Linked DNA regions of Homo sapiens. The protein of the gene in region 1 interacts with the protein of each later gene in a biochemical or structural test. Each region holds a gene or a part of one and is shown on either strand. Other genes may lie near its edges.

What was found.
Region 2: the proteins of PALS2 (region 1) and KCNJ1 interact in a test that uses a peptide from one of them, tested with the Homo sapiens proteins (one large-scale study listed by IntAct).
Region 3: the proteins of PALS2 (region 1) and HTR2A interact in a test that uses a peptide from one of them, tested with the Homo sapiens proteins (one large-scale study listed by IntAct).
Region 4: the proteins of PALS2 (region 1) and TRMT13 interact in a test that uses a peptide from one of them, tested with the Homo sapiens proteins (one large-scale study listed by IntAct).
Region 5: the proteins of PALS2 (region 1) and GAGE12J interact in a test that uses a peptide from one of them, tested with the Homo sapiens proteins (one large-scale study listed by IntAct).
Region 6: the proteins of PALS2 (region 1) and RAPGEF6 interact in a test that uses a peptide from one of them, tested with the Homo sapiens proteins (one large-scale study listed by IntAct).
Region 7: the proteins of PALS2 (region 1) and SLC34A1 interact in a test that uses a peptide from one of them, tested with the Homo sapiens proteins (one large-scale study listed by IntAct).

The regions. Positions count from the first base shown.
Region 1 is NC_000007.14:24,691,573-24,694,693, reverse strand, and holds the end of PALS2 (protein PALS2), read right to left. Parts: 3' UTR 501-3,121; downstream 1-500.
Region 2 is NC_000011.10:128,840,409-128,843,296, reverse strand, and holds part of KCNJ1 (ATP-sensitive inward rectifier potassium channel 1), read left to right. Parts: intron 1-827; exon of another isoform or gene 828-879; coding exon of another isoform or gene 880-915; intron 916-2,888. UniProt on the Homo sapiens protein: Inward rectifier potassium channels are characterized by a greater tendency to allow potassium to flow into the cell rather than out of it.
Region 3 is NC_000013.11:46,887,054-46,890,553, reverse strand, and holds part of HTR2A (5-hydroxytryptamine receptor 2A), read left to right. Parts: intron 1-3,500. UniProt on the Homo sapiens protein: G-protein coupled receptor for 5-hydroxytryptamine (serotonin).
Region 4 is NC_000001.11:100,146,663-100,150,162, reverse strand, and holds part of TRMT13 (tRNA:m(4)X modification enzyme TRM13 homolog), read right to left. Parts: coding exon of another isoform or gene 3,491-3,500; exon of another isoform or gene 2,270-3,490; coding exon 1,837-2,269; exon of another isoform or gene 1,539-1,836; coding exon 1,343-1,538; 3' UTR 1,122-1,342; coding exon of another isoform or gene 1,066-1,121; 3' UTR 796-1,065; coding exon of another isoform or gene 728-795; 3' UTR 1-727. Other genes in the region: LRRC39 (leucine-rich repeat-containing protein 39), read left to right, coding at 728-795. UniProt on the Homo sapiens protein: tRNA methylase which 2'-O-methylates cytidine(4) in tRNA(Pro) and tRNA(Gly)(GCC), and adenosine(4) in tRNA(His).
Region 5 is NC_000023.11:49,325,037-49,327,460, reverse strand, and holds part of GAGE12J (G antigen 12J), read right to left. Parts: intron 772-2,424; coding exon 646-771; intron 1-645.
Region 6 is NC_000005.10:131,457,230-131,460,729, forward strand, and holds part of RAPGEF6 (rap guanine nucleotide exchange factor 6), read right to left. Parts: intron 1-3,500. UniProt on the Homo sapiens protein: Guanine nucleotide exchange factor (GEF) for Rap1A, Rap2A and M-Ras GTPases. Does not interact with cAMP.
Region 7 is NC_000005.10:177,394,434-177,396,890, forward strand, and holds part of SLC34A1 (sodium-dependent phosphate transport protein 2A), read left to right. Parts: intron 1-2,299; coding exon 2,300-2,416; intron 2,417-2,457.

The DNA.
Region 1 (3,121 bases):
AACCAAATACTGCATGTTCTCACTTCTAAGTGGGAGCTAAATGATAGTATCTTATAAACACAAAGAAGGAAACAACAGACACTGGGGTCTACTGGAGTGGGGGGTGGGAGGAGGGGGAGGAGCAGAAGAGATAACTATTGGGTACCAGGTTCAGTATCTGGATGATGAAATAATATGTACAATAAACCCCTGTGACACGTGTTTACCTATGTAACAAAACCTTCACATGTGCCCCCAAACCTAAAAGTTAAAAAATGCAAACAGTTAAAAAAAATTATCAACGCTAATCAGATATCCTCCATTATTATCTCTAAACCTTAGTTCTACCTATAAATGAAACACTTTTTTCCAATAGTAAATATTTCTTTATATATACAAAAATATTTTACCAGGAGTATATAATCTCACAGATTAGACATTTCAATAATTTTTGTTTTGGACAGCACATGGAAATATGTGAAAAGATTTATAGGGACAGTTTCTGAAAAATCAATACTTAATTGTACCACAGGAAAATTTTATTTATACAACAGCAATAATGTTTCTTTTATACAGAAACTAATAATACAATTACCTGGAAAGCAGTAGCAATTAATTTTTCTTTTTAAACTTCTTAATCAGAAACTTTAAGCAGCTTGTTCAGCTTTGATTTTCAGATTGCTAACAAGCATTCTGCCCTCCATTTTTTTTTTTAAAGATTCTCTTCTACAGTTACTTCAAAAACTAGAGGTTTAAAAAAGCATGCGTCTTGTGTTCAAATAAAAGACTTACCAAAACGAACTGGCGTGGGGGGAAAAGGAAGAATAAAAAATTCCCACAGCAAGGTTTTCACATCAAATACTCACCATAGGCTCCAACAGAGCTCAACATAACATGGAGAAATTGCACTTGTTGCTGAATACTAGTGCTCATTCTTCTACAACAGAGTCCAACATATCACTTCTTTAAAAAAAAATCAGTGTTACTGAAGAGACAGGAGCCAGTCAGCAGTTCTTTTTAAAAGAGAATACAGAGACATAAGAAATATTTTTATTGTATTTCAAATACAGATGTAGCTGAGCTATGCCTGAAATCTGGTTCTACCTGAAAAGATGGAGGCATTTCTCATTTAGACCATGTTTACCAGGACAAGCTTTATGTCTTTAAAGCAATGTTACTTACACTACTGTCCACCTCTCCTATTTAAGAATAAGATGAAAACCACACATTTTAACTGGTAATGACTTCTGGTTTAATGTTGGTAATTTACAGCTGATGAGTTTTTACATCAGATGAGTATGCTTTTTTCCTGTTTTAGTTAATTAGGCTTCCTCCAAGCTCCTAGGCTACTTTGATAGGAGGAGAGCCAAATTTCATATATGACCTGTCATATTTATGTATGTTCCTTCCCCTGGCTTGCTGTTGGCTGAAGTACAATAAAGACATCTATTTCCAATTTTAAGACCTTTTTGGCTTCTGTGGTAGCAACACCACCTATTTCATAAGATTCAAAGACAGTTGCTTTACAAGCAGTAAATCACTCAATCTTCTGATTGGTGGCATTTACCTTAACTATAGATGTGTTCATTCCATTTACACTGGAGATTAGAAAACAGTAAGAGCCAGTAGGAGGGGAAAAAAAGGAAGAGAACTATCCCTTCTGATCGACTTTTGTATGTGGAGATAAGTCAAATTTATCACACCATTGCATTATCAGCCAATGACTGAGAAGCAATTACAAAGTAATAACTAAAGTGGATTAATATCTGGATTTTGAGGTTCACAAACTAAGACCTCACTGTGAATGTTTCTTTCTATAAAGAAATAGATGCCTTTTTAAATTAATGGTATGGGTAAAACAGTAGGGCTGCAGTGATTTCAGGTATGCAGTGATTTCAGGTATAAGGATAAAGTAGGACAGTTTTCGGGGGCAAAGATCAGAGTCTTCTGGTGTAACCGAGTACTGGATTGCTTGCTTACATTTTGTTTGATTTGTGAGTGGTCTGGTTGGCAGCAAGGATTTGCTAAGGGTTTGGATTTAGTATGGGATTATAAGATAAAAGGGACTTTCTGATTAGGACTAAGAGAGCAGAACAGACCTTCCACCAGCTGAAACTGTATCTTTGGGGCTATTTTAAAACTGGAAGAATTCCTGAAAAGTATTCACCATTCACTACATTACTTCAGAAACAGGTACACTTTAAAATAACTAAAAGAGAACAGATAAAGTAGCCTAATAAGGATTTTTCAGTTCACCATATCACAGCTACCACATCAGAGTTACAAATTACAAATCAGAATTTAAGGCGAAGACAAATATTAACTTAGCCTTACTTAACAAGTAGAATAGTAATGATAAAGGGAAATATAAATTTCATCGAAGATCACACAGTCAGAAGTCAGAATTAGGATCTTGGCCAGTACCCTGTCTTTACTTTTATCACTAGAGAATATTTTTTAAAAAGTACTGCAGTGTATTGCCAAAGTGGTGTGAACCATGCTTACTTTAGAAATGAGATATCATCATTCTTTCACTGTTTAGTATATTAAGGACTCATGTTCGAATCTCTGCATTTTTCAAAAACTATTCCAAGAACACAGAAGCTAGCATGATGAATTATGGGAAATATTTTAAAAAGAATATAAATTGCAAAACGTTAGAACAAAAATGCAATTTAAAAATAACCTTACCTTAAAAAAATTATAGAACTGTCATCTTCCTCAGGTATACAATATATGCTTGCATAAAAACTGACAAGATGCTCAATTATTAGTCAAATGTATTCTTAAATTTTGTGAGTATTCATTTGTACTATATACAATAATCCCATTATTTAAAAGAATGAATTTCTCCCAAAAATTCCAAATACATTACAGATGTTATTACATGAATTCTCACAGCAAACCTCTTGAAATAAGACAAGGGCAGGTATCATAATCTCAGCCTGAATCATATTAAAGATTCATTCAAAAGTTTAAATAAGAATTTCCAAAGGGGTTTCCATCCAGAACCCTGCCCTTTTTCCCTAAGAAAATTAAATTTATTATAATAATGACTACTTTCTGAGTTTCTCATATATTTTTCAGAAAGATTATCAGCTTCAAGGTGGAACCAGAGCGTTTTAAAACAATCTAAAAAAAG
Region 2 (2,888 bases), on another chromosome or scaffold:
ACAATCTCTAATCACCTAAGAGTTCATAAAATACATATTGGCTCTGTCTGTGGTTAGATTAAATGCCATTATCTAAAAAAAGTAGGATCTGTGCAATAATAGGTCTGCCATGTGAATGACAGTTTTGGTTAGTGGATGAATTTATCCTGTATCATTGCATTCTCTAAGAATAATCCCTCTCACTCTGAACAAATAAATCAATAGCATTGGCTAACCCAGTGCATGTAAAAAACACCTTCAGTAAATGCCAGGTTTTCCCGAATAATAAAGACTTCCAACAATAAAGACTTCTTTTAAGTCTGTTTCTTACATAACTGTTGTATGGAGAGATTAACATGGTATCTTGTTTCTTCCTGGTGTGATCTTACTTTTGTCTTGTAAATATGTACTTATGTCTGTATGTTCACCTGCATCTTTGTGAACCCTTGGAAAACTCAGTATTTCAGTGGGTTTCAGAGAATAGGCCGGGAGATTGATGATAAGTAAGTGTTTCCGGCCAGTTGTTATTAGGCACAACTTTTAGGAGAAACAAGTGAGCGATAGAGCGTGGCCAAGGAGAGGAAGGCAATGCTGGAACCCAATCCATGCCTGCTGCCCAGAGACCTTAGCTGATGGCTTGTCATGTCTTAGCATGTTGGTATTCAAGCCATGTGATGTTGGAAAGAAAAAATACCTATTCAGCTTGGGGCTTGGTCTGAGAACAACCAATTGCCTTGGTTTAAATCACACGACTCCACTATCAAATTAAGTGTTTCCAAGTTTACACAAATTAGCGTCAGTCCACTGACTGTCGCCTACAATAAATTAGGCTGAGTCTAAAAGAAATCAGTCTGCATAGAAAGACCAACAACCAGCACCACTTCCTTGCTTTTTCCAGCCATGAATGCTTCCAGTCGGAATGTGTTTGACACGTTGGTAAGTGGAGGCTGGGGAAATCACCTCTCTGGAAAGCCAGGCAGATAATGTTTCATCATTAATGCAGTCATGGAAACTCAACGTTATTCAAGTGATCAATCAGGGGGTACTTCTTCACTCTACAGAAATCTTCTTTACCTTTAAAAGTAAAATGAAATTAAGGGAGGCTAGAGGAGCAGGGTGCTGGGAAAAAAACTCAGAAGTTGGTGTGTTAGGAGCCATCTCTGGAATTATAATGTATGACAAAGAGAATGTGGATTCAATTGATAAATGTTGGTTTTAGAATTTACTATTTGAGCTGAGAGTCACTCTCTGGAGAGCTGGGTAAACAGTGTGACCCTGAATGCACCTGGGAGAGAGGTCAGTCCACATGGGTGTAGACCAGGGTAAAGGATGTGTGTACAAGGAAAGGAGAAGACCATTTCCTTCTCTGTACCTCACATGCACCATCCCCTAATCCTCACTGGGGACTTGAGGTCAGTGAGGGCAGTGTGGGATGAGAGGAGGGCCCTCTTGACTATGTGCATTGCTGTTTATTCTCTTGGCAGCATTTTCTTTTTTTATGTCTTTAGAACCTGCCCTCAACATTTCAAATCACCACAGCTGTGGTTTTCTCATCACCGCTTCGACTTGGCGTTGGCTTCTTGTGTTTTCAGCTGGGTTAAGGCCTTGAACAAGACACTGTGGGATATCACTATTATTTAAAATGTATCACTCAGTTGGTTTCGCTTCCTAGTTCTTACGAATAAACACATTTTTCAAGGGGGATTTTGAAATCTATTTTAAAAACATATTTGCATTTAATGAAAAATACCCTGAAGACATTGCGGACCAGGGTGGGCACACCTTGATATTCTTGGGCATGGGGGAGGAGGTAATCTAGCGTTTATGACTTTGGGTTTCACCACTGTCAGGTGTTTATGGGACAGGCCCTTCACCATTTTGCTGTACAATGGAAGTCACAGTAATGTCATCTATAAAAAATCAATTGAGCAAATAGGATTTTGAAAAATGTAATTCATTCACTGAATTATTTCATTTACGTTTACTGAATAAACAGTAGGCACTCATCAACTGTGCTAGCAATTGTGATATAGGAATGAATAAAGTATGGTCTGTCTTTATGGAGTATTACTTAAATCAGTGCTCCCCAGTCCTCCAGCTTTGGAGTAGGGAAGGAAGTGTTAGATGTGTTGATGGTGGCTCTCATACTATTCCTTTTGGGAATCTTGGGAAACCGTGGGGAGAGAGTAGGAACAGGCTTGTAGATTTATGGAGAAGCCCTATGAGACCATCTGGTTGGATCTGAGCTCTGTTCTAAATAGTGTTCAGCATTTAACAAAAAGAAATATGACCAATACTTGTCTGAAAATATTTTAGGGAAGTGTGACTTTAGAATATAACATTTGATAACTGAGACACGGAGTGGTAGAAGCTCCCCTAGACTAGAGGCAGGGAGCCCTATATTCTAGTTGTCATCCTGCCACTGGCTAGGTACATGCATTTGGACAAGTTATTTAAATTTTCTAAATCTCAGTTTTCTCATTTGATAAATGAGAGAACAGAATTGAATTAGGATTTTTCTTGATATATGAGTATCAATAGAAGTACATAGATGATTTAGGTAGTATATTGATGAGTGTTTTATTGGTCAGTTATTCATTTTTCTATATCTCAAAAACATACATAATGCTTCAAGTTTGTGATTTCTCAGAAATTATTGCTTAACATAAGGCTAAACTTATGAGAAGGTGATTTAAGTAATATTCAATAAATAAAAATACAGGTCATAATTGGTTATTACAAACATATTTAAGGTTGTGTGAGACTAATTGAGGTCAGGAAACACTTGAATATATAATCACTTAGTTTGTCTTCATTTCTAGCTCTCTGTAATTATTTTGCCTCTTTATGTTTGAGTAACATGGTCTTCCAGTGGAAAGTTTCTATCAGAAATAGCATTGTGGTATCCA
Region 3 (3,500 bases), on another chromosome or scaffold:
TTCAGAGAACTCAGTTGCACAGGATGATATCACTTATAATCAGGAGTCAATATGGGTCAATCTGAGTCCAAAGCCCATGCTCTTTCCACTGCACAAAAGATAGCCAGAAAGAGCCAGAGGCAGACTATCACCACAGGAGGCAGGCAGGCTGGAATGATTGTGGTGGTGCCAGGCAGGGATCATTCATCCATCCACTTGGCCAGTCTTTTTGAGATGAAGTTTCGCTCTTGTTGCCCAGGCTGGAGTGCAATGGTGCTATCTTGGCTCACCGCAACCTCCGCCTCCCGCATTCAAGCTATTCTCCTGCCTCAGCCTCCTGAGTAGCTGGGATTACAGGCATGTGCCACCACGCCCGGCTAATTTTGCATTTTTAGTAGAGACAAGGTTTCTCCATGTTGGTCAGGCTAGTCTCGAACTCCCGACCTCAGGTGATCCCCCTACCTTGGCCTCCCAAAGTGCTGGGATTACAGTCATGAGCCACTGCCCCCACATTTGACCAGTCTTGTAATGTGCATCTACTATGTGTTTGGCACTGTATAGACCAAGATGAAAAAGATATGCATTCAAAGATCTCTCACAGTAAGGTAGGAGAAGACAAGGAAACAAAAGAATAAAAAAAAGTTACATAGAATCTATACTAGAAGTCTGAGGTGTGTGCCCTGAGGAGGGGGCAAGCGGAAAATGTAAAAAGGAAAAAGGCAGATCTAATGAAGGACCTACAGAGACTCAGCACAAATATTCTCTTGAGTTTTCTTCTAGTGTTTCTGTTTTGATTATTTTGCTTTGGGTTTAGTTTTTTGTTTGCTTTGTGTGTGGTTTCTTTTAATTTAGATCCTTAGTCTAGCTGGAATTTTAAAATATGATCTAACTTGTTTGCTTCTACTAGTAACTAAAGCTTTTTTTAGACTCAATTGATATTTTCTCTTCAAGCTATTGATATGTTCACTCTCTTGGTAAATTTCTAAATGTAATACTGTCTTACATTCCTGGAATATTGAGTTTGTATGACAAAGTTGGTTGGTTTATGATTCTTACAAGTTTTCTTTTTCTAGCTTTATTAAATGATAGAGAAGTTTCCACTTTCCCTAAGTCTTGAAGTCTTTAAGTAGAAATTACATGTTTTTGAGAGGTTATGTAGAACTTGGTTCCAAATCTCTTCATCCTGGCTCCTTTTTAAATAGTATTTTAAGTTACATTTCTAACTTCTATAGTTATTGCATTTACATTTTCTATACCTTCATGGGTTATTAGCTGCATACAAATTTTAACCTTTACATTGATTCTTTTATCATTAACTGTCCCACTTTATATCTAGTGATGCTTCTTGATTTAAAATCTATTTGATCTTAGTATAGCTACGTTAATTTTCTTTTGATTATCATTTTTGGATATATCTTATTTCATCCTGTTACTTTCAAACCTTTTGTGACTTTAAAGTGTTAGCCTGTAAGCAGCATATAAAGTTTTGTTTTTAACCCCATCTTTGTCTTTTAGTTGGAGTATTTAGTCCTTTTACATATAATGTTAACTCATATTTGGGTTTAAATCTGTTATCTTACAATTTGCTATTTTCTTATTTGTTCTATATTCTAGTTTCTTTTCATTCTTACCTTCTTTTGGACTAATCAAGAATTGTCAATTCATCATTCCCCTTTATGAGCTTGTTATCCATTGTTTTAAATTACTTCAATGATTACAACATTCCTTATTGACCTTAGAGTCTAAAACAAATTATTACTTGTAACACTTCTCGGATAGTGCAAAAACTTTAGAACCTTTTAGCTCCATCTATCCCTGTTGTCTTTTGGGTTTTTCCCTATTTACTAAATGTCTTTTTTAAACCCATAAGACATCATTATAGCCATTCTATTCACTATTTCTCACATATTAACCCCTGTTGCTGTTTATTGCTTTCTTCATTTTCATGATTTTGCCTGGGTTCCTCATTCCTGAAGAATTTCCTCTAGAATATCATGTCGTTTGTTCTGTTTTTCTTATCCTAAGCATCTTTATTTTGCTTTCATTTCAAACACATTTTTGTTCAGTATAGAATTCTAGGTTGACAGTCATCTTTTTTTTTTTTCAGCACTTCATAGGTGGCAAATCCAACATTCCAGGCTTATATTTTTTGTTTGTAAGAATCCAGCTGTCAGTCTTATTTTTATTCCTTCAGAAACATCACCTTGTGCCACGCCCTGCTGCTTCAGAATGTTTTGTCTCTATTTTAGCAACTTTATCATGATGTACTTAGTTGTGAATTAGTTTCTGTTTTTATCCTGCATGGTGTATGTACTGATTCTTAAACTTGTGACTTTGGCCACTTTGACAAAACTCTTGGTCACCATCTTTTCAAATATTGCTTCTGCCCCATTCTCTCTCTTCCTCATGTCTGGGACTCCAATCTCATGTATGCTAAACCTTTTACCTAAGTTCTTTATAACTCAAGCACTTCTACATTTTTTTTTTTGCTTTGTTCTTCAACTTTTAAGTTCAGGGGTACATGTGCAGGATGTGCAGGTTTGTTACATGGGTAAACGTGTGCCATGGTGGTTTGCTGCACAGATCATCCCATTACCCAGGTATTAAGCCCAGCATCCATTAGTTATTCTTCCTGATGCTCTCCCTCCCACCTCCCCCCACCAACAGGCCCCAGTGTGTGTTGATCCCCACCATGTGTCCACGTGTTCTCACGATTCAGCTCCCACATATTAGTGAGAACATGCAGTGTTAAACACTTCTACATTTTGTACATTTTTCTCCTTTTATTTCTTGAGATAGCTTTACTGACTTTTCTTCTTCTGTTACTAGTCCTCTCATCAGCTACTTCTAATCTGCCTAAGACCCATCTCTTGTTTTCTTAATTTTAATTCCTACACTTTTAGTTCTAGATTTTTTCATTTAATTCTTTATAAATTCCAGGTTTTTAGAATAATTCTCCATGTTTTCATCTATTTTCTTAAATATTAATCACAAGTTATCTGGATCTCTCTTTTCTGGGTTGTGGGATTACCTAGGGATTTCTCTTTTCTGAGTTTTGGGGTTGTTTTTCTCTTCATTCTGTCTGTTGATATGTCTGGTAATTTTTTTAATTGAGTACTGTGTATGCCTGATAATTTTTTTTTTTTTTTTTTGAGACAGAGTCTCACTCTGTCGCCCCCGCTGGAGTGCAGTGGCGCGATCTCGGCTCACTGCAAGCTCCACCTCCTGGGTTCACGCCATTCTCCTGCCTCAGCCTCCCAAGTAGCTGGGACTACAGGCGCCCGCCACCACACCCGGCTAAATTTTTTTTTGTATTTTTAGTAGAGATGGGGTTTCACCATGTTAGCCAGGATGGTCTCGATCTACTGACCTCATGATCCGCCCGCCTCGGCATCCCAAAGTGCCGGGATTACAGGCATGAGCCACTGCGCCTGGCCGCCTGGTAATTCTTTTTAATTGAATACTGGACACTGAAATAAAATGTTTGGGTGTTTTGTTGATACTGCCTTTCTCCAGAGTGG
Region 4 (3,500 bases), on another chromosome or scaffold:
CATTTTACTTGTGTTATCTCATTTGATGCTCACAACAACCTTGTGAGGTAGGTATTATTGTTATCATCATCATCCCCATTTTAAAAGGAGGAAATTGAGGCACAAAGAGATTAGGTAGCATGCCCAAGGTCGCACAACTGAAGATGGTAGGTTTGGAATTTGAACCGAGACAGTCTGACAAGATATATGAGACTAAAGTCAGGAATTTTAAATTGGTTAGGCTTCTTATTTACAAATCATATAATCATAGAACTACAGGATAAAAATAGTTATTTCAGAATATCATAATATCTAAAATTAGTAATTCTGAACCTTTGTCTTGGCAAATGTACCATCAATTAAGACAATTTTTACAAATAAAGGCAGAAACAAAATAGGGATAAGATGCAGAAGAGAATAACAGTCCTACCATATATTTGGTTTAGTATTTTCTTGTGCATAGAAACCAGTCATGAGTTAAATAAGGCCTAAATTTGAGAAGGTTTTTGGTTTCATTATCTAATTTCTATTTTATTCCAAATTATTTTCCCAAACAGAAGAGAACATACTTATTGTTTGTGCCTACATATATAAAAAATGACCTGATAAAAGATATGAGATAGCTAATCAACTTCAGAAATTATTTCAAATTTGTGAATTATGTTTGTAAGTATCTTTTTGGAAGTTCTAACTAGACAATTATCCAACAAAATAATTAAGTGAAATAATCTTTTTTCTTTGAAAACAGCTCTTCAGTTTTGTGTTTGTCATGGACAGATTCTGACAATATATACATGTATGGCTCTGGAAATTTGAAGGTGACTTCATTAATTAATTGTGTTTATTAATTGTGAATATCTCTGAATTGTCTGCATTTGAGAAAATCACAATTGTGCTTTCCAGATCTGTAGGGAAAAATGTCCACATATAAGTCAAATTCTCAGATTGGCCCTTGTTACAATCAATCACTACCTCTTGAACTTAAGAAATAAAAAATATTAAATAAAATCAAAGGAAGATAAATTTCCAAAATTAATACAAACAGAAATACGCTAATTATGTGTTGACATGTTATGTATGTTTCAGATCACCAAGTCAACGGTTCAACTACTTTACCAATCTCCATAAATACGGATGGATAATATAATTCAAGATGCCCTTCTAAAGAGGATTACTTTGGTGAATTCTCTAATGTTTGGATTTCTGAAGTAAAAAGAAAAGCTATTACCAAAGTTTAATGAGGCCACAGCATTTTTTAAAGTTCATATTATTTGCTATTTAAAGTATATATTTTTTTGATATAAAAATATAATTAAAAAATTTTTTTTGGTGGAAGACAGATGATGCTCAAATTTCTTTTCCATTAAGCAGTTGTTTCTGGTGATGAAGAATGATTTGGTAAAGCAGTTAACAAAACATTTTCCAAAGACACCAGAGGGTCTGTATAGTACTGCAAAGCAGGACTGAATCCCTTCTGCTGCAAATACTGGATTCGACCTTGGTCAATCAGCAATTTACAAAGATGCCCTATTTTCTTCTTTTCTTCAACACTAAGAAGCCTAAATTGAATAAACACACACAAAACATTGTTAAAATTTTGCAAAAGTTTATAAAAAATTATTTTTGTCACTATTTATTGAGAGACTGTTAACTAACCCATAATGTACTAAGTACTTTGTCCCATGCTTCCAAGACACATTATATTTATGACCACAATAAAAGATGTGTATATTTTAGCTTATTCTAAAATTAGATTATAAAATACATTTTCATGAATTGTTGATAATAGTCATCTAAAGTACAGTACAATATAATATTTCTCCTTTAGTATCATGCATTACAAAAGTAGTCTCTTACCCAGGCAAACAATCAGCGCCATCATCTGTGATTCTGTATCCTCCATCATCATGCTCTTCACTATCATCATTCTGATTATCTTGCCTCTTTGTGGTACTATTTGAGGTTTCCAAAGATGTTTTCCGCATCCCACAAGTTGCCCAACTACTCATTCGCTGGAAATAATGGAATTCCACTGCTCCAAGGCCTAGAGCCCTGAAATATTCTTTGCCCACATAATGTCTCCAATCACACCTGTGGTGACAACAGAGTGCAATAACAATGCCAGCCACAGGGTTCCACTTCTCTGGGACATTTTTTTCATTTCCTTCCTTGGCCAAAGTGTAAATTTCTTTTTCTGTTTTATCATTCTTTATGCGTTTGGCTAAAGGTTCTTCATTCCTTTCCTCAAAACTGGCAGCATAGGTTTCAACCAAACATCGTAATGCAAGATCTGCAAACACAATTATGTGGCCCCCCCAAACCACATCATCTTTAAAAATAAATACTTTTTACATTTATTAAGCAGTACTGTTTTTAAAAACTCAACAATAAAAACAGCAAAAACCTACTCAGCTTTATATTTGTAATAATACTATCATGAATTATCAACTTCATTCAAATTTGCTCTTCTATCTTCTCAATTTCTTTAATGATTTATTCTGCATAAAGCCTACTTCCCAATAAAGCTATCTGAAGCTTAAGATCTACAATTTGAAGAACTTTTACCCAACTACCTGAATTGTCTCTCACTTTTCCTACCTTAGCTGAGGAAATGACTTGTATGGGAAAACTTTATTCACCTACACTTACATTCTAGTTTAAGAAAGGAAAAATGAAGGAAGGAAGGAAGGGAGGGAGGAAGGGCAGACAAATCTGTTTAGGTTGATGCTAGGTCAAGATGCTTGTCTTGAAGAGGCTCATAGCAAATAGTGATGAACTGAAGAGTTGAAAAGAGGGCGTCAGAACAGAATCTGGAAAGCAGGCCTCACTGAGTAGCCTTACTGTATTTATTCATTTATTTAACAAACATTTACTGAATGCCTTTCATGTGCAAAGCACTGAGGATACAATTATTAATATACACAAACTTAAGAGGCAGATGTACTCCACATTACAATGAAAATATTTTAGTATATTTTAAAACTAAATAAATGGATTTTTGATGACTATGGCTATTTCCCATCGAAAACTCCTACACTGTTGACAATACTGGAAAGACCCAAAATGTAGGACCCATATCTTCTTAATCATTAGATTGTCATGTTGTGTCTGTTCAATCAAAAACATATACATATTTTAAAATTTTATTACCCTAAGATATCACAAATGACTATTAAATGATCTGATATTTCACTAGTAAATTTAATTCAATATATGAATTTAAGTCAACAAACATTAGAAACCCATTATTTGCAGAAAGTGATAGCTAATCTATTATTTCATAAACTATTATTTTCTGACAAAATACATTTAGTCATTGTTTTATTCATATTTGACTTAAGTAAGTGATTTTCAGAAATGTGAATAACCAGATAAATTATTAAAAGAATTAAGTTATTTCAGGCCAGGCGCAGTAGCTCACGCCGGCTGAGGTGGGCAGATCACGAGGTCAGGAGATGGAGACCTTCCTGGCTAACACGGTGAAATCCCGTCTCTACTAAAAATACAAAAATTAGCCGGGC
Region 5 (2,424 bases), on another chromosome or scaffold:
GAGTGCTTCAGCATTTTTCACACCAAGTGATGGGTGTTACAAACGTGTTATGTATTGATTAAAAGCAGACCTTTACAAAAGCATCTGAAAATTGTGAGCTACTGGTTTAAGGATTTATACTCAAAACTTTTAATTCAACATAGCTTTGACTCAGTTTGTTTCCCTATCTGACAGTCTATCAGTCGGGTGCTGGGGCCTGAACTACGTTTCAAATAACCTTTATATAAGAAGTCTGTTACTAAAGACGCAGTATTGTTACCTCTCTGTTATTAAAAATATAATGCTGGGTCGGGCACGGTGGCTCTCGCCTGTAATCCCGGCAATTTCAATGGTCGAGGCAGGTGGATCACCTGAGGTCAGGAGTTTGGGAACAACCTGTGCAACATAACGAAACCCTGTCTCTACTAAAAATACAACAATTAGCTGGGCGCGGCGGAGCCCGCCTGTAAGCCCGGCTCCGCCAGAGGCTCAGGCAGGAGAATCACTTGAACCCTGGAGACAGAATTTCCAGTGAGCCGAGATGGCACCACTGCACTCCAGCCTGGTCTTCAGAGCGAGACTCCGTCTCAAAAACATAGTAAGACTTACAATATGATACTGTGGAAACAGACACCCTACAATGTGCATGCCTAATGGATTGCCTACCTTCTTCAGGCGTTTTCACCTCCTCTGGATTTGGCGGGTCCATCTCCTGCCCATCAGGACCATCTTCACACTCACACCCAGTCTGTGGGTGACCCTGTTCCTGGCTATCAGCTTCAGGCTTCGGCCCTTAAAAATAAAAAATACGTATCAATTTAAGCAGTAAAACATAACGCATGAATAAGAAAATAATATTCACGCTCTCGGTATTATTATATAAAAGCTTTAGCTAACATAATAATAAATGTGTTGATAAGAATCCCAGGAACATTATTTCAGGAGTCCGTTAGCAGAAAACAGGAAAACAAGGTGTTCCAAATATTACCCTCTTCCTTTCCGAAGACTGCCCTCAGACAACTTTGCTGCCTCCTTTGCACTTCTCTCTTATTCTACTTCTGATTGTCCTTCTCGTATTAAATGACTCAAGGCTCAAATCCCGTCTCTCACAGCACTTACACTCCTAGCGCTTAGACTCTTACATGGCATGAGTAGCCACCAATAAACGCTGAGTGAGAAAACTCTTTTAAAAATACATGAAAAAGCCCAAACTGCAGAATATTCTGCAAACCAACTGGTCTATCCTCTCCAAAAATGTCCGTATCGTGAATGACAAGAAAAATTAAGGAAACATTACAGGTTAAAGGAAACTAAAAACACCTGAAAAGCACATGCAAGGTGTGATTCTGAACTGGACTCTGGATCAGAAAAAGAAATCCTATCAATAAAATTATCTGGGCCGGGCGTGGGGTCTCACGCCTGCAATCCAAACATTTTGGGATGCCAAGGTGGGCAGAGCAGGTGAGGCCAGAAGTTCAAGCCCGCAGTGGCCGGCGCCTGTAGTCCCAGCTACACGGGAGGCTGAGGCATGAGAATCCCTAGAACCTGGGAGGTGTGGGTTGCAGTGAGCCGAGATCGCACTACTGCACTCCAACCTGGCCCACAGAGAGAGACTCCGTCTTCACACAAAGAAAAAAAAAAAGGAAAAAAGAAATTTTCTGGGGAACTGGCAAAATTTGAGTATGCACTCTGTATTAAATGACTCCATTTTCTCATTGTTAAATTTCCTGATTTTCATCTTTGTGCAGTGATGATCCAAGAAATGACTTTCTCTTTGTTCTGACGATATACACACCCTCAAGTACATAGGGTAAAGGACCATAATACCTGAAACTTTATCGAGACAATTCAGCATTAATAACAGTATGTATGTGTGTGTGTGTGTGTGTGAGTGTGTGGGCAGCACGGTAAGAGACGGAGGGAAGAGATGTGAAACTGATGAAGCGAAAGCTATTAACAATTGGTGAATCCAGATGAACAGTATATGAGTTCATTGTACTATTCTTGCAAATTTTCTATGAATGCTATGTCTTGAAGATACATACAGTAAAAATTTAAAAGAATATATGATAACTGCACTGAACTTTAGGAAGAAAGGAATTTCCAATTGTGGTAAAAAATACAGATATCCTAAAATTTACCATCTTAACTATTTTTAAGTGGTACAGTTCACTAAGGAGTTACGTTTGCAACATTACCAGCCACTAGGCACAAAAACTTTGCATCTGTGTTTTCCTATACCATGAAAACTTTACTTATTTAATGAATTTATTTATGTATTTATTTATTTATTCATTTATGTATTTATTAGCGATGAGGTCTCACTGTGTTTCCCAGGCTGGGCTTGAACTCCAGGACTCAAGCAATCCTCTCACCTCGGCCTCCCAAGTAGCTGGGACTATGAGTGCATGGCATTCAGCCCAGCTTTAGACCTTTCTCCTAAAT
Region 6 (3,500 bases), on another chromosome or scaffold:
CTGGCTAATTTTTATATTTTTAGTACAGACAGGGTTTCACCATGTTGGCCAGGCTGGTCTTGAATTCCTGAGCTCAAGTAATCTGCCTGCCTTGGCTTCCCAAAGTGCTGAGATTACAGGCATGAGCCACCATGCCAAGCCAACAATCCTTTATTTGGCATAGCACACAGTGATACACTTTGGTACAAATCTGTTTGAGACAGGAGAGAAGGGAGACACTCTGAGTTGTAAGCAGCCCTAATGCTGCCACAATCTCCATTTACTAAGAAAAAGTAAAGGATAAAACAATTCACATACAAGGCTAACTCCTGCTACCGTGGAATACTGCTGCATGGATCCACTTATATGCAGATTTTTTTCAATAAATTCAGTCACCCCTCCGTATCTGAGTGTTCCACATTCACAACCAAATGTGGATCAAAAATACAGTTTCCTTGGATGTGAAACCTGCTAATGCTGACTTTATGTATCCACAAGTTCCTCAGGGTCAACTGCAGGACTTGAGTATGTGAGGATTTTGCTATCTGTGAGGAGCCATGGAACGAATGCCCCACAGATACTGAGGGACAATGGTATCATTTAATATGAAGCACCAGCAGATGAAAATAGACAAAATAGAGAAATAGTTATTAATAAATGGAATGAGAGATGTAAAGTTATCATCAGTTGAAGAAAATTAGATTGTTTAACTCAAAACTCCCAAAATATTAACTGAAAATTATTAGAAGCATGAAGAATGCAGTAAGGTACTAGGTACAACACTGATATTCATATGCATTAGAATACTTAGGCAGAAACCATTAGAAAACTTAAGGATCCCATTCATAATATAAGGATCCCATTCACAACAGCAATAAAAGATATTAAACATTCAAACAAATGTTCAAGATTTACATGAACACCACTATAAAAACTGATATGGTTTGGTTCTGTGTCCCCACCCAAATTTCACGTGGAATTGTAATCCCCACATGTCAGGGGAAGGACGCAGTGGGAGGTGACTGGGTCATGGAGGCAGATTTCCCCTACGCTGTTCTCATGATAATCAGTGAGTTCTCAAGAGATCTGATGGTTTAAAAGTGTGGCACTTCCCCCCTCACTCTCTCTCTCTCTGCTGCCATGTAAGACACGCCATGTTTGCCCTTCGCCTTCCACTATGATAGTAAGTTTCCTAAGGCCTCCCCAGACATGGGGAACTGTGAGTTAATTAAACCTCTTTTCTTTATAAATTACACAGTCTCAGGTATTTCTATACAGCAGTGTGAAAACAGACTAATAAAACAACTCCACAGAGGAAATAAAAGAAAACTGAAACAAGTGGAATAAGTGTTCTTGGATGGCAAGAGCCATTGTTACAAAGCTATCAAATGTCCACTAAAGTAATCTAGGTATTTAATGTAATCTCAATGAAAACATCAACAGAACTTTTTCTTTTCTTTTTTGAGACAGAGTCTTGCTCTGTCACCCAGGCTGGAGTGCAGTGGCATGATCTTGGCTTACTGCAACCTCCACCTCCTGGGTTCAAGTGATTCTCCTGCCTCAGCCTCCTGAGTAGCTGGGATTACAAGCATGTGCCACCATACCTGGCTAATTTTTTTGTATTTTTAGTAGAGATGGGGTTTCACCATGTTGGTCAGGCTGGTCTAGAACTCCTGAACTTGTGATCCACCTGCATTGGCCTCCAAAGTGCCAGGATCACAGGCGTGAGCCACCGCGCCCAGACATCAACAAAACTTTTTAAAAGAACTACATAAATTGATTCTAAAGTTGATATGAAACAAATAAACATGCCAGAAATAGCCAAAGAAAAGTATGAAGAGAGTCATAAGGGGTTTGACTAGCCCTATCAGACCTTAAAACCTATTTTACCACTTCAGCAACTAAAACAGTAAATGAATAGACAAATCAATGAAGCAATGAGTGCAGACATAAACCCAAATATGTGTTAGATTTCAGTACATAATAGATGGCATTGCATATTTTAGAAAAAAAGATTGATTAATGATGTTGGGTGAAGAAGTCATTTGGAACAAAGAAAGATATATTTCTTTATCTCACTGTTTACATAAAAATGAATTCAAGATTAATAAAAAATGTTGTCTAGGGTGTTCTAAGAGCTCTCATTGTATTAGCTCATTGAATACTCTTAACCTTATTAGGTAGGAACTACCAGGATTTCCCATTTGACAAATGAGGAAACTTAGTTCACATAGACAACAAGTGCCAACACTGGATTCAAACCTAGGCAATTCTTTGTTCTTAACTAACCACAAAATGCAGAAACTCCAGCAGGAAAAAAAATAATACATCTACATAAAAATAAAAAAATTTCTACATGGCAAAAGTAAACACCACACACTGTTTTAAATAGCCAAAGTCTGGAAATTTAGAAATATCCATAATGTGCACTCCACAATACAAAGGAGTACTTCATAGTTGTTTAAAAAATATGAGACAACTTTATAAGAACTGATTTTAAATAATCTCCAAGATAAATTAAAAAAATTAGCCAAGGTGGTTTTAAATATATATTTATATGCTTGCTATATGGATAGAGTATTTCTTGAATGAAAAAAGGTAACAGTATCTCTGGGGAGAGGAATTTGGGTGGATTAGGGACTGGGTGAGACAAAGTTACTTTCGCTGTGTACTCTTTATCTTTAAAATTTTTTCCATGTACATGTCATGTCTATTCAAAAAGTTAAAATTATTTTATAATTATAAAAAGTTGTTAATTATAGCCAGAACAGAATGATTCACCTTTGCCATCTCTGCTGAAAAGAGTATATTCTTTGATCTACCTGAACATGAAGTACAAGAATACAAAACAATTATCTTAAAAAGAATACAAAAGAAACAAAGCAATGATCTTTACATGAGCTATGAAAATGTGCAGAACAAATATTCTTTGTAACAAAACAAATCTTTTAACCAAACAAAGCCTCTTAACCAAATCTCAGCCCTTTCCTATCCACTCCCTTCTTTGGGCTACTGTCCATCACATCTTCTCTCAAATCACTCTCTTTCATTGGCTTTGATGACACTATCATAACTGTGCTACTCTGTTTCTTGTACTGATCCTCCATCTCTTTGGCTAGACTCTTTTTCCTTACCCTCACACTGAGTCATCATACTAAGGTATGGTTTTTAGACCTCTACCACTTTCTTTCTACCCTCTTTTTTATACAGAGATCTATTCTCTCAGTGTCAATCAATTTTCTTCATAGTGGACTCTAAAACTGAGCCCGTAATTTTCAAATTCTTTACTTGATGCTTCCTTTACAAACAGGTTCCATTTCTAGCCTTCCAAGTGTTTATCAGTGGCATCTTTATTCCTCTGTTTTAGACTTAGCTGTTTAAAAACTGTGATATAGGTGGTATTTTACAGATAAGAAAACCTATCTTCAGTTTTCCACTGACACATTGCTACTATATGGGAGAGGCAGGATTCAAATACAGGTGCAGCTGATTCTAAAGACCACTCTGTTAATCTCTATTCA
Region 7 (2,457 bases), on another chromosome or scaffold:
AATCAACAAAGAGTACTTAAGCCCCCATTGTGTGACAAGGGAGGTGTAGTGCCAGGTATACAGAGGTGAGACAAACAGAGTTGGGTCCTGCCCTGAGGGGCTCACAGCCCAGCAGGGGGAGGAAAGCAATGAAAAATACATGAGATTGGCAAATGGCTCACACCTGTAAATCCAGCACTTTGGGAGGCTGAAGCAGCAGGATCACTTGAGCCCAGGAGTCCAAGACCAGCTTGGGCAACATAGTGAGACTTTGTCTTTTTTTTTTTTTTTTTTTTTTTTGAGACAATTTCACTCTTATTGCCCAGGCTGGAGTGCAATGGCATGATCTTGGCTCACTGCAACCTCCACCTCCAGGGTTCAAGTGATTCTCCTGCCTCAGCCTCTCGAGTAGCTAGGATTACAGGTGCCGGCCACAACACCCGGCTAATTTTTTGTATTTTTAGTCGAGACAGGGTTTCACCATGTTGGCCAGGCTGGTCTCAAACTCCTCACCTGATGATCCACCCGCCTCAGCCTCTCAAAGTGCTAGGATTACAGGCATGAGCCACCGTGCCCGGCCGAGACTTTTGTCTTTACAAAAAATTTTAAAATTAGCTGGGCATGGTGGTGTGCTCCTATAGTCCCAGGTACCCAGGAGGCTGAGTGGGAGAATCGCTTGAGCCTAGCAGGTTGAGGCCGCAGTGAGCTATGATGGCACCACTGCACTCCGACCTGTGCAACAGAGTTCAAAAATAAATAAATAAATAAAAATAGAAAAAGAAAATGAATTAGGAATAGGAAGGAAAATGAATTAGGGGGATAAATTCAGAGAGAGGTACCTGCCAAGGACATAGCAAAAATGGCAGTGCAGTAGGGTGTGGAAGAGACGGTTTCCAATGCGCTGTTTGAGGCCGCTCAGTGCAGTTGGCATTTGAACAGACACAAGTAGCCACGATGCGGATGAAGAGCACTCTGGGTGGAGGAACAGTATGTGCAAAGGCTCAGAGGCAGGAACCAGCATGGCAGGTCCGTGGCACAGAAGGGTGGCCAGTAGCTGGCAGGAGCAGGGTAAGGGATTGCCTGAGTGGGGTCAGTGAGGTGGCACGGAAGGGGCCAGAGCATGGGGTCTCCAGGCTCTGCTCAGAGCCTGGACTTTATTGAGGGTAACATGAGCACTCAGAAGACTTGGGGTAAGGGAGCAACACCATTTGATTTTCATTTTCCCTTTTTTGTTTTTTGAGACAGAGTCTTACTTTGTCACCCAGGCTGGAGTGCAGTGGTGCAATCTCAGCTCACTGCAACCTCTGCCTCCCAGGTTCAAGTGATCCTCCCACTTCAGTCTCCTGAGTAAACTGGGATTACAGGTGTGCACCGCCACACTCAGCTAATTTTTGTATTTTTAGTAGAGACAGGGTTTTGCCATGTTGGCTAGGCTGGTCTTGAATACCTGGCCTCAAGTGAACCTCTCGCCTTGGCCTCCCAAAGTGCTGGGATTACAAGTGTGAGCCACCATGCCCAGCCTCTTCCTATTAACCATAAATTTTTTTTATAGAGATGGGCTCTCACTATGTTGGTCAGGCTAGTCTCGAACTCCCAGCCTCAGGTGATCCACCCAACTCAGCATCCCAAAGTGCTGGGATTATAGGTGTGAGCCACCTTGCCCAGCCTTGGTTTTCATTTTAAACTTCATGCACTGGGAGGGGCTGCATGACAAGTACTAGAATAAGGGGTATCATGGGGCTGTGGGAGCTCAGAGAAGGGAGAAAAAGTCTGCTCCAGAGCAGGGGGTCAGGGAAGGCTTTCCAGAGGAAGTGACATCCATGCTGAGTCTGAGGATGAATATTCAGATGCTGAGTAGGATATTCCCAGCAGAGGGAACAGCCCCATCAAAGGCACAGTTGCCTGACGGAGCCAGGCTGAGAAAGGCCTTCAATCCAGGAGCAAAGAGGCCAAGTGGAAGCAACTGCAGTGGGAGCAAACCCCCATGGAGGTCGTCTCTCCCAGTGCCCCCGCGGAGATCCGCTCTCCCAGTGCCCCCGCGGAGGTCCGCTCTCCCAGTGCCCCCGCGGAGGTCCTCTCTCCCAGTGCCCCCGCGGAGGTCCTCTCTCCCAGTGCCCCCGCGGAGGTCCGCTCTCCCAGTGCCCCCGCGGAGGTCCTCTCTCCCAGTGCCCCCGCGGAGGTCCTCTCTCCCAGTGCCCCCGCGGAGATCCGCTCTCCCAGTGCCCCCGCGGAGGTCCGCTCTCCCAGTGCCCCCGCGGAGGTCTGCTCTCCCAATGTCCCCGCTCTGACCCCAGCCTGCTGGGATGCGGTTTCCTTGCAGACTTCCCTGCCCCCTTCACCTGGGTCACAGGCTACTTTGCCATGGTGGTGGGCGCCAGCATGACCTTCGTGGTCCAGAGCAGTTCTGTGTTCACCTCGGCCATCACCCCACTCATCGGTGAGTGCCCATGTAGAGGTGGAGTGGGGTGGGCCAGGGCT